Regions from separate parts of the Homo sapiens genome. Here region 2 is linked to region 1. Evidence: fine-mapped expression QTL. A gene starts in region 1. The other region holds a variant in brackets. All regions are shown on one strand. Distances are between the middles of the regions.

What was found. PIP is the estimated chance that this variant, and not a neighbour inherited with it, causes the effect.
Region 2: its variant is fine-mapped to the expression of TSC2 in whole blood (TOPMed, PIP above 0.99). The same link has a PIP of 0.9 or more in blood mononuclear cells, fibroblasts, lung and lymphoblastoid cells.

Annotation. Positions count from the first base shown.
Region 1 is chr16:2,043,836-2,051,972 of GRCh38, reverse strand. It overlaps TSC2 (TSC complex subunit 2), which reads right to left and starts at 3,988. Exons shown (of 42, transcript NM_000548.5): 1 at 3,908-3,988; 2 at 3,220-3,386; 3 at 1,487-1,573. The coding sequence starts at 3,357. It overlaps NTHL1 (nth like DNA glycosylase 1), which reads left to right and starts at 4,139. Exons shown (of 6, transcript NM_002528.7): 1 at 4,139-4,264; 2 at 5,607-5,845; 3 at 7,173-7,343. The coding sequence starts at 4,150. RefSeq lists a silencer at 3,725-3,954 and enhancers at 4,045-4,134, 4,585-4,644, 4,236-4,735.
Region 2 is chr16:2,076,943-2,084,942 of GRCh38, reverse strand. It overlaps TSC2 (TSC complex subunit 2), which reads right to left. Exons shown (of 42, transcript NM_000548.5): 26 at 7,217-7,345; 27 at 5,747-5,911; 28 at 5,515-5,667; 29 at 5,274-5,386; 30 at 4,566-4,778; 31 at 3,145-3,348; 32 at 2,439-2,507; 33 at 1,127-1,248; 34 at 228-715. Among named protein-coding and RNA genes, the nearest start is that of MIR1225, 9.3 kb to the left of the region's middle. RefSeq lists an enhancer at 5,812-6,521. The variant A/G (reference allele first, on the strand shown) is at 4,258.

The sequences.
Region 1 (8,137 bases):
CTCCCTCAGCCTCCCAAGTAGCTGGGATTACAGGTGCCCGACACCATGCCCAGCTAATTTTTGTATCTTTAGTAGAAACAGGGTTTTGCCACATTGGCCAGGCGGGTCTCGAACTCCTCACCTCAGGTGATCCATCCACCTTGGCCTCCCAAAGTGCTGGGATTACAGGCGTGAACCACTGCGCCCGGCTAAGGACACCTGTTCTTTACACCTATCTTTGGTAGCGTACGGCCAGCACGTTTCAGATGAGCTGCTGCAGAGGTAGCAATCACTCTCCTCTTAGCAGATCTGAGCATGAGAGGTCCAGGTCTCACTGCTCTCCCACACACAAATGCTGGGCAAGGCAAGGGCAGAGCCCTCAGGTGCTCTACCAGCAACCTGCACTCCCAAAATGACCACTTCCTGTCCTGTCCACAAGTCATCAGGAAAGTCTGGCAATGTTTGCCCAAAATAAATATTTCTATGTCCGTGAGGTCGCCCAATACCACCGACCAGTCACCCTCCCAAAATGGCACCAAGACCAGCGTGCCTAGGATTGTTCTCTGTGGAACAAACCCTTTCTTGATTTTTCTTGGCCTGAACTTGTAACAGGAGAGAGCGAGTGAGCATGCGTTTCTATCAGCCACTACAAACTCTTCCTTTTTTTTTTTTTTGAGACAGAGTCTTGCTCCGTCACCCAGACTGGAGTGCAGTGGGGCGATCTCGGCTCACTGCAACCTGTGCCTCCCGGGTTCAAGCGATTCTCCTGCCTCAGCCTCCCAAGTAGCTGGGATTACAGGCATGTGCCACCATGCCCGGCTCATCATCTTTTAGTACAGACGGGGTTTCGCCATGTTGGCCAGAGTGGTCTTGAACTCCTGACCTCGTGATCCACCCACCTCGGCCTCCCAAAGTCCTAGGATTACAGGCATAAGCCCCCGCACCCCCGCTCGGCATAGAAATCCTTTCTGGTGTTGCTAGAAAAGCCTAATCCCTTTGCTCCCCATTTCCACGCTTGATTGGTCCCTCAAGGTTGTATTCGGGGCATTTCCAGTAGCTTCCCCATCACTACGATGAAAGCTAAATTCCCCTAAAACAGTGCAAACTGGCTGGGCGCAGTGGCTCACGCCTGTAATCCCAGCACTTTGGGAGGCTGAGGCATATGGTTCACGAGGTCAGGAGTTCAAGACCAGCCTGGCCAACATGGCGAAACCCCGTCTCTACTAAAAATACAAAAAGCCGGGTGTGGTGGCGCGTGCCTGTAATCCCAGCTACTCAGGAGGCTGAGGCAGGAGAACTGCTTGAACCCAGGAGGCAGAGGCTGCAGTGAGCCAAGATTGTGCCAGCCTGGGCGACAGAGCAAGACTCCATCTCAAAAAAAAAAAAAAAAAAAAAGTGCAAACCAGATCATCGGCAGTCAGCTGTCAACCATGTTCCTAAAAAAAGCAAACTCAGGCTCTGAATAGTCTACGTGCCTCTCTCTAGTAGCTCAACTGGATAAACCTACCTCTTCAAATTTCTTGGTTTTTGCGACTTCACAAATCTGCCCTATCATCCGGATGCGATTGTTGAGGCCACATTCCATGCTCAGTTCCTGGAGAGAGATGAAAGAAGAAAAAGGGGCCAGTGCTCAGGCCACGGTCTCCTTAACTGCAAGTCACAAACCACCTAAAGACTCCCACTGCATTTTCCAGACTAGAGACTTAAAACAGATCTTTCTGGAATCAAGATTCACTTGACGAGCCGCGGTGGCTCAGGCCTGTAATCCCTGCACTTTGGGGGGCCAAGGCAGGTGGATCACCAGAGGTCAGGAGTTTGAGACCAGCCTGCCCAACATGATGAAACCCTGTCTCTACTAAAAATACAAAAAATTTGCTGGGCGTGGTGGTGGGCGTCTATAATCCCAGCTACTCGGGAGAGTGAGGCAGGAGAATCCCTTGAACCCAGGAGGCGGAGATTGCAGTGAGCCGAGATCGCGCCCCTGCGCTCCAGCCTGGGTGACAAGAGCGAAACTCGGTCTCAAAAAAAAAAAAAAAAAAAGATTTACTGAGGGGCTTTACTGCTCCATCCCGAGGAGTTGAGAATGTGCAATTTTTTTTCACAACTGCAAATGTTGTATTGAGATAAAACATAACATGAAATACAATTTCAAACTGCACAATTTTTTTTTAGACGGAGTTTTGCTCTTCTTCCCCAGGATGGAGTGCAGTGGCGCGATCACGGCTCACTGAAACCTCCGCCTCCCGGGTTCAAGCAATTCTCGTCTCAGCCCCCCGAGTAGCTGGAATTACAGGCGCCCACCACTATGACCGGCTAATTTTTGGTATTTTTAGTAGAGACGGGGTTTCGCCATGTTGGCCAGGCTGGTCTCAAACTCCTGACCTCAGGTGATCCACCCGCCTCGGCCTCCCAAAGTGCTGGGATGACAGGCGTGAGCCACCGCACCCAGCCAGGATGGACTATATTTTATTCATCAGTTGATGAACGTTTTAGTTGTTTCTAAGTAGAAAACTTTACAAGTGCAAAAATTCAGCATTTACTCATGGGCAAAACACAATGCCAGGCATGTGTGACAAAGACACAAACACACATAAAAGATAACGACCTAGCCCATGTGCGATGGCTCATGCCTGTAATCCCAGCACTTTGGGAGGCCAAAGCGGGCAGATCACCTGAGGTCAGCAGTTCAAGACCAGCCTGGCCAAGATAGTGAAACTCCATCTCTACTAAAAATACAAAAATTAAATGGGTGTGGTGGCACGTGTCTGTAGTCCCAGCTACTCAGGAGGCTGAGGCAGGAGAACCACTTGAAACTGGGAGGCAGAGGTAGCAGCGAGCAGAGATTGTGCCACTGCACTCCAGCCTAGGCAACAGAGCAAGACTCAGTCTCAAAAAAAAAATAAAATAAAGAACCTACTTCTCCCAGGAACTCACATCTTATCATGTAACACCTGGACATATCCTTACCTGTGAAGATGATGATACTCAGGCCTCATCTATAAGATGGGCTTTCTTTCATCAACATCTGAATAGTAACTCAAGTGTGCCTGAACCAGGTCACCAAGATCCTGACTTTCGAAGTCTCCTGAGGAAGGACATGTCGGCCTCCAAGTACTGGAGACAGCATTCCTGTGTAGACAGTTGCCAGCAACCCGTCTCCCACAGAACCTGGTGCAAGACCAAACCCAGCCTTCTCTGCATTTCCCTCTAGCCTAGCAAAGACACAGGTAGCTCACTCACTCTCAGTATTTCCGCGGTGATGATAAACTCCGTCTGTTTACCCTCTGCAGACCTGGGATTTGGCCTCGGTGTTCCCAGTCCCAACAGAATCTTAAACTTCTCCTTCAAGCCTGAATCTTTGCTTGTTGGTTTGGCCATGGTGGACCAGGACGCACCAGAAAACCCCTCTGTGCAAACGAAACAGGAATGGGGACATCTGAGCAACACCTCTGCCCACCTTCCCCACTGCGGACCTCCAGCCGTCAGGACCCTGGGTCTCTGGTGGGCATAACCTTTCCTCCCACACTCCCTGGGAGAACTCAACTACAGCCCAGCTGACCAGCTCGCAAACAGGCACCTAGGAAAGCCCGGGAGACACCAGGCCTGGTCTAGAGAGCTCTCTACTCAGACGCTGCCGCCCGCCCCGCCCGACTCAGTGCACGGGTTAGGACTGCCGCCGCGAAGTCCTGGGAGCCCCGACGTTTGCCGTCTCTCCTCTACCCATGTGAAGCAGGAGCTGTCACGGAGCCGCCTGCAGCAGAGACCCGTTCGCACCCGCCATGACTTAAAACTAAGGGATGCTCGGAGCTCCGGAGTCGGGTTGCAGTGGGCGCGGGTGAGGGCCCGGGACCCGGACACTGCGGGGTCCGCCTCTCTAGGCCGCTGCCCCGTGGGGACCGCCACTTGCCCCGTGGGGACCGCCACTTACCCCGCGCCGCGCCACCGCGCTCCGGGCCGCCCCGACGCGGAGAAAGGCGCACCCCCCTGGCCCCGGGACGCCGCCGGAAGCGCGACCCGCACTTCCGGTAGCGGCATTGCGCGGAGGGCCGCCTTGGGAGCTTGCTGGGAGTTGTAGTTCTGTGCCGCCCTCTGGCGGAAAGGCCGGCGATCCTTGCATCACGTGACGGGGCCGCATGGGCCGCCGGGATGTGTAGTCCGCAGGAGTCCGGCATGACCGCCTTGAGCGCGAGGATGCTGACCCGGAGCCGGAGCCTGGGACCCGGGGCTGGGCCGCGGGGGTGTAGGGAGGAGCCCGGGCCTCTCCGGAGAAGAGAGGCTGCAGCAGGTAGCGCCGCGCCGTGGCTGGAGCGTGGGAGGAGGCGGGATAGGGGCTGCAGGCTGGAGTCCCGGGCCGCCTCCTGCGGCTCCCAGCTGCGCGGGCAGGGGCTGCAAACCCGGCAGCCGCGAACGGTTCCCACGTGCGGCCCTGCGTTCCCACCTTGCGCCTTTTTCCCAAAGATTGCGGTCCGCAGGGGCTGGGTTTCGGGCGCTCCGCTCCGCTGCCCCCTTTCGCCCCAAGCAAGAAAACGCTTCCTTTCCCACCACTCTGTCCGGGACTCTCCACTCCAGGCTCTGTGGGTCCCATCCCCGCCCTCCTGCAGTGAACTTGCTGTCCTCGGAGAGGCTGGGTGCCAAGGACACACGCAGCCAGAAGCCTGCTCCCCCAGCTCGGGGGAGGGTGCCTCTGAGGGAAAACAGGAAAGGGCATGGCACTTATTATATTTATCCTGCAGCCGTTGAGGACCTGCTGGGGGCCAAGCACTGCAGTGAGCAGTGAGGGACACGGACAGGGCCTCTGCGCTAGTCCCGCTGGGACTTCTGCAGAATTGGCCAGAGCTGGATTCCCATAGGCACCCAGGGACCCCAGGGGTAGTCCAGACTATGTCAGGAGGAACTGGTGCAGCTGGGAGCAGGCAGGTGGTGATGCCAGCCAGGGTGGCAGGAGCTTTGATGCCAGGATAGAGTTTGGAGTTTATTATGACAGTAAACGGAAGTCAATTAGGAGGTTTTGTTGTTTGTTTTGAGATCGGGTCTTGCTCTGTCACCCAGGCTGTAGTGGAGTGTTGTGATCTCAGCTCACTGCAACCTCCGCCCCCCAGGTTCAAGCAGTTCTCCTGCCTCAGCCTCCCAAGTAGCTGAGACTATAGGCCCCTGCCACCACACCCGGCTAACTTTTGTATTTTTAGTAGAGATGGGGTTTTGCCATATTGGCCAGGCTGGTCTTGAACTCCTGACCTCAAGTGATCCACCCACCTCGGCCTCCCAAAGTGCTGGGATTACAGGCTTGATCCACCGCGCCCGGCCGGCCAGGATTTTTTAAAAGGGAGTGACACAACCTGATGTGGGTGTTAGCAGACTGTCTCTGGTGCAGTATAGAAGATGTATTGGGGGCACCTTGGTACAGGCTGTTGCTAGAGTCCTCATGAGCTAACATGGACCTTGTCAGGGTCGCTGGCATAAGGAGGGCCCACATACCCCAGACTGCAGAGGGCAGAGCACCCCAAGTGTATTAGATGATGGACAGTTGTGGCATGAACGAGTGAGGGGTGAGCTAGCAGGCGGGATGGCACCCCTACCCTACCTTCACCTGTGGCCCCACCAGAGGGACTGCGTGGTGCTTTTTGCAGAAGCGAGGAAAAGCCACAGCCCCGTGAAGCGTCCGCGGAAAGCACAGAGACTGCGTGTGGCCTATGAGGGCTCGGACAGTGAGAAAGGTGAGGGGGCTGAGCCCCTCAAGGTGCCAGTCTGGGAGCCCCAGGACTGGCAGCAACAGCTGGTCAACATCCGTGCCATGAGGAACAAAAAGGATGCACCTGTGGACCATCTGGGGACTGAGCACTGCTATGACTCCAGTGCCCCCCCAAAGGTAGGCAGGGGCCCCATCTGCCCAGATGACCCCCCATCTTAGCAAGGTCCTTGTTTTCTTTCTACCCGGTGGCTTTTGGCTGGCACCCTCCCCTGCAGACAGCACCTTGGGAGGATGGACACCCGGTGCCCCAGAGCATCGCCTGCATCACTGTAGCCACTCAGCAGGTCAGGACACCAGTGGTTTAGGGCCTCGTGCTCGAACTTCTGCCCAGTGCAGGCGTGACCTGGGCTTTGTGTGATATCAGGAAGGAAGAGTTCCTTTTGCTTCACGGTCCCAGGGCCTGAAACCCTTAGACCAAGCTGAGTTCTAATCCCTATTCTGCTACCAGGTGGCTTGGATACAGGCCTCTCTGAGCCTCAGTTTGCTTGTCTGTAAAATGGGTAGTATGGGCCAGGCATGGTGGTTCAGGCCTGTAATCCCAGCACTTCGGGAGGCCAAGGCGGGTGGATCACCTGAGGTCAGGAGTTCGAGACCAGCCTGGCCAATGTGGCGAAACCACGTCTCTACTAAAAATACAAAAATTAGCCAGGTGTGGTGGCAGGCACCTGTAACCCCAGCTACTTAGGAGGGCGAGGCAGGAAAATCGCTTGAACCCCGGAGGCGGAGGTTGCAGTGAGCCAAGATGGCACCACCACACTTCAGCCTGGGTGAAAGAGTGATACTGCATCTCAAAAAAAAAAATTTGTTTTAAAGGGTAGTGTGATGATTCACGAAGCAATCATAATAGTAGTGGCCAATGGCTGTTCAGTAGTGATGGGCCAGATACGATCGTGTTGGGTTTTTTTTTGAGACCAAGTCTTGCTCTTGTTGCCCAGGCTGGAGTGCAGTGGTGAAATCTTAGCTCACTGCAACCTTCGCCTCCGAGGTTCAAATTATTCTCCTGCCTCGGCCTCCCGAGTAGCTGGGATTACAGGCATGCACCACCGCACCCAGCTAATGTTTGTATTTTTAGTAGAGACGGGGTTTCACCACGTTGATCAGGCTGGTCTCAAACTCCTGACTTCAGGTGATCCGCCTGCCTTGGCCTCCCGAAGTGCTGGGATGACGGGTGCGAGCCACCACGCCCGGCCACATACGATTCTAAGCACTGAGATAATTCATTTAAGCTTCACATTACTCCAGTGAGTCAGGTACTATTATTGTCCTGGTGTTGTAGATGACCAAACATACCCAAACCAGACCTCCCCACCCCACAGGGGGAGGCTGATGCCTCAAGTGTGGCCCAGGGCAACAAACCAGGGTGTGTCGAGGGCGGGGGGCGGAGCCTGGCCAGGGAATCACCCAGGACCCGCCGCCACCCCGGTCCCTGTCACTGCACAAGCAGGTACGCAGGTACCAGGTGCTGCTGTCACTGATGCTCTCCAGCCAAACCAAAGACCAGGTGACGGCGGGCGCCATGCAGCGACTGCGGGCGCGGGGCCTGACGGTGGACAGCATCCTGCAGACAGATGATGCCACGCTGGGCAAGCTCATCTACCCCGTCGGTTTCTGGAGGGTGAGCCCTGCCTGTGGCAACGGGGGCCGGGTGGCAGTGGCCTGAGAGAGACCTCAGAAGGCTGAGGGGGGTGGCGACGGTGCAGGAAGTGAGGGTCAAGCATCTCAGGCTCGGGGGGTCCCCCTGAAGCCCCCCCCAGGCCGTGGGGCCCTGAGGCCTGACGCCCAGTCCCAGCAGCTCCTTGGCCTTCCTGTTCGCATCCTCCCTTCCTTCCTCTGCTTCCCCGCCTCGCCGCCTGCCCACCCTTCCTCACCGCCAAGGCTGCCTGCCCACCCGCCTTTCCCTTTGTTTACTGCTAGCCTCTCCCGGTGTGTCACCCCCTCCTGTCCAGAGCCCCTCACCCTCCAGGAGCCCTGGGGAGGCTGCTCCCCAACCCCGCCGAGCACTGGATGGTGGTGGGCGGATCTGTTGAAAGCAGCTTGGTGGGTGGGGCCGCTTCCCCTTGGCACCCGCGTGGGCCGCAGTTTCTCAGATGGGTTTTAAATAGCCCTCTCCACTCAGGCACAGGATGGGAACCACCCGGCAGGCCTGGCAGCTGGTGGGGAAGCCCCAGCTCCAGCCCTCCTTCCTGAAGGCGCAGGTGCAGCCAAGCCCCACTCCTGGGAGCGGCTGGCCTGCTTGGCCTGGCCTGGGTGCTGGCAGGGAATGACGGGCAGGGGAACCCCAGCCAGAGCCTACACGTGCATCATTGGCCCACACGGGTGGGAGGAGGGGGTCAGGCCTACCTTGGGCCTCCCTGCTGCCCTCCGCTTGTTCCCGCCTCCTGGGGGGCGGGGGCTGAGCTTGCACACGTC
Region 2 (8,000 bases), 33 kb before region 1:
GGAGGGGATGGTGGGCACCCAGGTGAGGGCCTGGCCAGGGCAGCCACAGCCCACAGGGAGGAACACAGAGCCTGGCCATCTCCCACTCCACCGCCCTCCCAGGGGTTCCAGCCAGCCCTAGGGCACAGGCGAGGACCCCACCCCAGCCCGCTCGGCCTGGGGCAAGTGAGGCACCAGGTTCCCGCAGGAGAGGTGTCAGGAGCCCCGCCCGGAAGCAAGAGGCCCACCTGGGGTTGATGCCTGGCACTTTCTCTGCATTGGAGGCTGTGGCTCTGCTCTTTAAGGCGTCCCTCTCTACTCTCTTGCCCCTGCGTGATGGGGCCGAGTCGGAGATGGTGTAACCTCGGGGCCGGAGGCCACTGGGCGAGCGGGGGGAGCTGGAAGGCAAGGGACCCTCGGGCTGGCCCCGACTGTCTTCGCCCGAGGCCGACCAGGCAGCACTTTCCCCGTCCAGGGTCCCTGACTGTGACCGGGCCTTAACCTCAGGGCTCAGCCGGCCCACGTCGGCCTTGTCCCCAGGGTCCCCGAGGATGTCCTGCAGAGTCTGCAGCTCGGGAGAGGAGCTGGACTTGCTCAGGGGCTGCGAGGGCTGGAAGGAGAGGTCCACAGAGGGCCGGCCACCCTCCGAGGAGACGACTCGCTCGATGGGGATGCCCCTGCCAACCAGCTCCTCCGCGTGGAGCGACTTCTCCTCCTGGCTGGAGACTGAGGACGACTAGAAAGGACCATCCCAAAGAGAACCCCTGTCAGCAGGCACCCTCGAGCCCACCTGGGGTTGACCTGGAGGTGGTGAGGCCCTATCTGTCCTCCATCCCAGGGCCACAGACCAGCCCGAGCACCAGGCTACGGCCCCCGCCCGTTGACGCAGCAGCACTGCCACCAGCTGTGCCCCACACTGCGTGAGCAGAGGTATCAGCATCCCCTGAGACCACAGGCTGCCCAGCAGCCAGGGCCGGCCCAGGTGGATGGCTGCAAAGTGCAGACCGTCTGTGCACGAGGGATGTGGAAGAACATCTCCCCCAAGTTCAGAGCCAGTTCCCAGGGTGCAGGCACACCCACGCAGAGCCCTGCCTCCCCTAAGGAGCCCCCCGAGGTCAGCAGGGTCCAGGCTCTGAGCCACACTCACCCTGCTGTAGGCATCCGTGCGCCTGTCCATGCCTAGCGCTGCCTCAACGTCCTCCAACCCTGGGGGCTCCACCAGCACAGGAACCTCGCCCGGACTTCCCTCCTCCATGACCACGGCGGAGTCTGGGAGGACACAGACGGGGCTGCTGGATGTGGGGCTGGGCCAGGCCCTGGCCCTGACGTGGCCTCCGAGAACCAGCCTTCTCCTGACCAGAGGGACAGCAGCCCTGCGAGCCTCCCCAGGGCTCTGCTTACTGCTGCCATCCACCGAGCGGGCAGGGAGGACGCTGGGAAGGCCTGCACGTGACCCCGACACAGGCCTCTCCTGCATGAGTGCCCGGGGGTTGGGCAGGCAATCGGCTCTGCCCACCCTAGTGTCCACCAGCAGCCACCCCTGTGCCTCCAGGTAGGCAGGGGCAAGACGCTCTCCGCCCGACGGGCCTCAGCTCTAAAAGAGCGGGAGCCTGAAACCAGCCCTCGTAACCGAGGAGAGCTGCGGAGACTCCGTGACGTGGGGGAAGTCCCTGTTTGCAAACAGACTGCTCCCAAGAGCAGAGGCTCACCCTCCAACTCCAAGCCAGACCCACAGCTGGGGACGCTAAGGAGAGAGGGTGGGAGGTCCCAAAGCAGCATTTCCTGTGCCAGCGTCAGGACAGGGGGAGAGGAAGTAGAAGCAGCAACAGAGGGGACCATCACAGCCCCCGGGCGCCCCACAGCCCTGCACACGCGCAGTCAGCCACCCCAGGGCCCGTCCCACGCAGCCCTTCCAAACCAGCTCGTCTGCACGTGGAGACCTGGCAGGGGAGCACCATGCAGGTCACAGCACTCCCCACCAGGGCTTGGGGGCAACAGGCAGAGGTCGGTCTGCAGGGCCCCTGGTCAACCTGGGACTTGAGGCAGCCCCATCTGTGGGTTCCAGAGGCCAGGGGAGCCACCAAAGGCCAGGGCAAGGCCCGCTCGGTGCAGGCCCAGGGGTGGGCTTCCCCCTAAACAGCTGCCACCCATCAGAGTCTGCAGCTCAGCTGATGTCACCATGGAGACTCAGGCCACCCCCACCCCTCAGGCCTGAAGCTGGGCCGGGAGTGCTCGCACAGCGTGGGAACAGGGCTCAGCCACAAAGGGACCAAGTCAAGGGGATCCCGCTGGCCAAGCCAAAGACATTCTGCACAGACGTCCTCATGCGAGTCGGGACCTGCTCCCCAGGGCAATGGAGGCAGACGGACCATGGGGGTGGGCGGATGAGGCGACGAGCACAGCACCTATGAGGCAGAGTGGCGCTCTGCAGCCAACCGCTTCCCTCTGAGAGGCGATACCTGCCCAGGAAACGCTCCTGTGCAGCTGTCCTTGGCAGCTGGACTGGTACAGGGAGGAGAAAGAGGCCACTGCAAGGGAAGGCCGTGTGCGGCCACGTCAGCAGGAGGAGGGGCTACACACAGGTCGAGCAGAGAGCACAGGCCCCGTGCCTGCAGAGGAGAGAGGGCAGGGCCAGCGGCCGGCAGGGGCGCGCACGGGGCCCAGTGCTAGCTACAAGCTGCTTGGGCAGACCTGAGGAGGGCAGTGCCTCCCTCCTCCCGTGAATAGACGTCCTAGGCCGCTAAGTGCCATCTGCAGCCACAGGGAAGAGCCAGAGGGCCTGGCGAGAAGCACGGTGCCGAGTGGGGTGGGGGCCCAGAGTGCGCAGGCGGGCTCAGGTGTCCAAACCTGGGCCCAGGCAGGGAGGGAGGCTGCCGCAGAGCCTCCTGGAGCCCGCAGTGCTGGACTCCCCACGGAGGATGCTGGGCAGAGGCTCCACAGGGCCCCTACTGCTTCTGAAGCTGCCAGCCCCAGCTTCCTGAGCAGGGCAGACACCTCCCACGGGTCAGCCTCCTCCCAAACACCGGAGAACAATGGTGCTGAGGCAGGCCAGGGACCACTCCCAGCCGTGTGGGCGCCCTCAGCAGAGAGGAGCCACATTGCCGTCACCGGGAGCACCAGGCCAGTGGGAGCAGAGCCCGTGCCAAGGCCCGCCATGCCACTCACCTGTGTTGGAGCGAGGCAGAGGAGGGGGTTTGGCCGTGCTGGCTGCCGGCACCGACAGTGACTTGTACAGGGCTGTGTCCCGGTGCTCCTTGAAGCGCTCAGCCGCCATGAGGGCGTTAGACAGCTCCTGCAGGGGCATGTTGTTGATGTCCGAGGAGAAAGGGCTGAGCGGGTTCTCCAGGCTCATCAGCCAGCTGGTGTTCCCTGCGGAGGCGGCAGCACCTTTGGCCTGAGGCCAGTACCTCCCCTTACCCATCTCTGGCCCCCCAGGGGCCTCCTGGCCTGGGCCCTGGTTTTGCCCTCATGCTCCCTCCCACAATCCTCAGGACCACGATGTCGGAGCCAGCGCTGCTCTGACGGCCACCCACCCTGCTGCCCCGCTCAGCCCCTGCCTCGAGGCCAGGCTCCGCCAGGCACCTCAGAGCAGCGGCCTCCAGCCCACAGCCTCACAGTCCGGACCCAAGGCCTCCACGAGGGCTGGAACCCCTACTCTTTGCACCCCTCAGCCACGGCACACCCAGGCGCCCCTGGGCTCTGGGCCTCTGCAAAGGCCTCCCTCTGTCCCTGGGCTCTGGGCCTCTGCGGGGGCTCCCTCTGCCCCTGGGAACAGGCTGAGCTGTGCCCCCATGTTGGTATGCTTTAGTCCCAACCCCAGGAACTCAGAACGGGACTGTCTCTGGAGACTGGGTTTCAGAAAGCTAATTACGGCTAGCAAGGGACCAGAGCGGACCCTAAGCCATGACCGGTTTCCTCCCAAGAGGAGATTAACACGCAGACATCCAGGAAAGAGCCTGTGAGGACACAGGGAAAAAACCAACTGCATGCCAAGGATTGAGGCCTCTGAGGAGCACCTCCTGCCGAGGAGCACCTTGGTCTCGGACTTGCAGCCTCCAGGCGGGGAGGGCAACTCTCTGCCATGGAAGTCACTTGGTTCGCCACAGGCCCCTGCCCCACCTCAGCCACCTGGATCGCCCCTCACAGCTCACCTCTGGAGACTTACAAGTTACCCCCAAATGGCTGGGCGCGGTGGCTCACGCCTGTAATCCCAGCACTTTGGGAGGCCAAGGCGGGCGGATCACGAGGTCAGGAGATTGAGACCATCCTGGCTAACAC[A/G]GTGAAACCCCATCTCTACTAGAAATACAAAAAAATTGGCCAGGCGTGGTGGCGGGCGCCTGTGGTCCCAGCTACTCGGGAGGCTGAGGCAGGAGAATGGCGTGAACCCGGGAGGTGGAGCTTGCAGTGAGCCGAGATTGCGCCACTGCGTTCCAGCGTGGGCCACAGAGCAAGACTCTGTCTCAAAAAAAAAACAAAAGTTACCCCCAAATATCCCAAGAGGGCCAAGTCTGCAATCGCCCCTGAGTGTCCACAGCTCTGTGGGTGACTGGCAGAAAGATGGCGCTCAGGCCAGCCCCGCCCAGTACCTGTGGGCCTCCGGACCAGGATCTCCGCCCAGCCCTGGGTCAGCAGGGGCACATAGGCCGCCAGGTTCGTCTTCTCCTGCACAGGAACCCGGGTGCCAGCTGAGGCCTTCTCAGGTTTCGCGGCTGGTGCAGTCCGTGGTCCTGGAGAAGTGGCACTGCCCAGGAACTGGGAGGCCGGCACGTCCAGGGCGCCAACTCGAAGACCATGGCCCCCTGAAGAAGAGGGCAGAGGACTGGTGACCACCACTTACCTGATGCAAAACCACCAGCCTCAAGCTGAATGCTCCCCCCGAGCCTGGCAAGCTAGTGCCACAGGCAGCCAGAGACGGTGGCAGCTCTGCCCTTGGGGCACGGCCCACCACAGTGCTGGCCTCAGTGAACCCAGGGCCACAGGGAGGGACCCAGAACCTGTCCTGCAGTCAGACCACGGCTCGCTGGAGCAGAGAAGGGCTCCAGGACTGAGCCGAGCTGAAAACCCGCAGGAAACACCAGCACCCAGAGCAGGCCCCTCTGCAGCAAGCGGGCCACACTCCACCACTCCACGGCTCTGGGGTGAGCTGTGGAAGGCTCACCCCAGAGTCAGGACGTGGGCCGGGCCTGAAGCCAGCCACCCCGGCCCCTGGGCTCGGGGCCTTCCTGAACACTGGGACCAGCAGCAACTGAGGGAGCCCCGGTGCCTGTGTGGAGGTGGCTGGGGCCAAGGCTCACCCGACATGGAACGGACCCGATCCCGGGCCCCACGGGACACCTGCTGCCCAGCCTGGGACTCCAGCTTGGCCGGCGCCTCCTTGGTCTGTCTCACATGCACCCCGGGGCTGGAGCTGAGAAGAGAATCCCACGCACAGGGTGGACTTAGTCCCCAGGCTGGTACGAGGGTGCCACGTGGGCCTGGGCTCGGGACAGCCGGTGTCGAGGCTGGCAGGCGCGGAGGAAAGGAAGGTGCAGTCACCTCGACTCCGGGCCGGACTGCAGCTCCCCCGAGTCCAGGCCTAGTAACGACCGGGTCCCGGTTCCCACGCTTGTCGTCACAGTGACAAGCTTGTTCCCAACCAGCCAGGTTTTGGTCCTGCCACCCGCTAGGAGGAACTCGCCCACAGGAGACCTAGAAGACAGGGAGCGTGAAACCCAGCTTGCCCGTGGAGCTCCCGCAGGCCCGCCCAGCCCTGTAGTGCCGCCTGGACCTCTTCGGGACAGCCGTGAAGTTGGAGAAGACGTATCGAGCCATCATGTCCAGACAGGTTTCCGTGAGCTCCAGGTGGAGGTTTTTCAGGCTATCGTCAGCCTGGGCCACGGAGTTCTCATCTGCAGACCCCAAGCTGGCACTGGTGAGGGACGTCTGTATCCTGCTGGAGGGAGAGGCCGTGACCAGGGTCAGGGTGCCAGGTAGGGCGGGCCGAGCCACCTATCACCAAGGGCCAAAGCTCAACGCATGCACGGCTGAGGACCTCGCTCGGAAAGACCCCAACAGGGCGTGGGCGGCCCAGCGAGCCTCAGCTTGAGAATCACGTGGACCACATTGTCCCAGAGAACGGGGAGACGCTGGGTGGGGAAGACCAGGCCTACTGGTCGGAGCAGACTCAGGAGGCTAGAGACCGACATCCCCCTCACCGAAGCCCACGGGAGCACTAGGTTACGGCCTCCTGGCGAAACGGTGTAGTCATGCAGAGAGGCGGAGGCCACACAGACAGGCCCAGATTGCATTCTGCCCGCAGGCTGCCTCCGGCAAGCACACAGAGGTCTGGGATCCCCATGTGGCCTTCCACCGTCACCCTCAGGCAGGCGAGCGGCTGCCTGAGCTCCACACCCAGTGACAGGGAAGAGGCTTATGGGAGTTCATTCTGATACAAATTTCATAGCCCCTAGGCAATATTTTGCTCATGATACAGAATGTGCTAGAAAATGGCTTTAAGCCTCACCGAGCACCTCTACCACCCCAACCCCTGGCCAAGTCCCACCCAGCAGAGGCCGGCCTGAGGTGAGGAGGTGGATGGACTGAGGGCCATGGGACCCCTTGGCCTGCAACGGGCTTCCAGGAGGAGACAGGTATCCCCTCTGCCAGTGCCAGCAGCGATGACCCACAGGCAGGTGACAGCCGAGAGCCCGAGAGCCCACACCTGCACCCAGACACTGCGGGGAGAACTAAGACCATGGCCTGGGGCCCAGGCCCATGCCCATGCCCTGCAGGATCCTAGCCCCCACCCAGGCCCTCCCAGGCTGCCCCACCCCAGCACCCTCCACAAATGCCCCTTGTTCCCTTTCAGCTACAACAAAAAATAAACCTTGTTGAGAAGAAAGCCCGAAGAAAAACGTCCATTCTAGAGAATACGAAAAGGCCAAAACCAGGAGTGGTGTCTCCCCCAACCCACACTGCGGCCCTTGGGGACAGCCTGGGGAGGCTGCTGCCCGGCACGCCTGGCTCTCTCGGAGCGGCACCCCGAGGGGGCCTGGGGATGCGTGCAACCAGCCCGTGCTCATACGGGGCCTGGGGACAGAATGCAACCTTTCCACCCCTCGTCACCGGCTCCCCCTGGGCTGGCCAGGGAGGACACGGGCAGACGATGAGGTCATGCAAGCAGCCCCATGCACTGCCACCCAGGTGCTCACGGGGCCAAGCTCCAGGGTCCGTGCCCCCCACCCGACAGTCCCGCTACCTGCGGACCACATGTTCAGACACACTGATGCTGCGGCACCGGAAGGCCTCGGCTGCAGAGCTCTCCTTGAATTCTTTCACGGGTGGAGAGTTATTCAAGCCTTGTTTGGGGGGTCTGGCTATCCTCAGACTATCGGGTGAGGAAGGAGCCCCAACGCCCCAGAGAGCCCAGCTCCCGGGAAGGGGAGAACAAGCCAGTGGAGGGGTGAGGAGGAAAGGTCCCAGGCCACAGGGTCAGGATGGAGAGATCCCGCGGGTGAGATGAGCAAAAAGAGCCATGCCAAAGGGCAGTTAGCGGGGAAGAGACAGAAAACAAAAATGCATGATAATACGTCTGGTAAACATGACTGAGAACAAGTAAGGCTTCACGCATGACACCAAAACAAACAACGTCAGTGCAAATTAAACGTGTGTGGGTCACCCCCACGGCAGATTCCAGGCTGTGCTGGCCAGGCAATCCCACCCACCCGCGGAAGGCAGGCACCGCCCAGCTCTGACCGAGGCGGCACTGAGGCCTCAGTGGCCAGGCCCTGAAGGTCACTAGGAAAAGAGACCAAGACCCCAGAAAGTAGTCTCTGGCCGTAATGGCCGAGCTTGGCCCCCGGCCCCCAGGGGCTGGAGACAACAGCTTCCGAGTTGAGGTCACGCTGGAAAATGCCGTATTCCCATCTAGGGAAAGCCAAAATAGCTCGGGCAGGAAGGTGGGGGACAGGAGGAGAAAGCCGTTCAAATGAAATGCAAACAAGAACACAGAGGCTGGCTCAGCTCTTTGCGGTCCGGCAAGG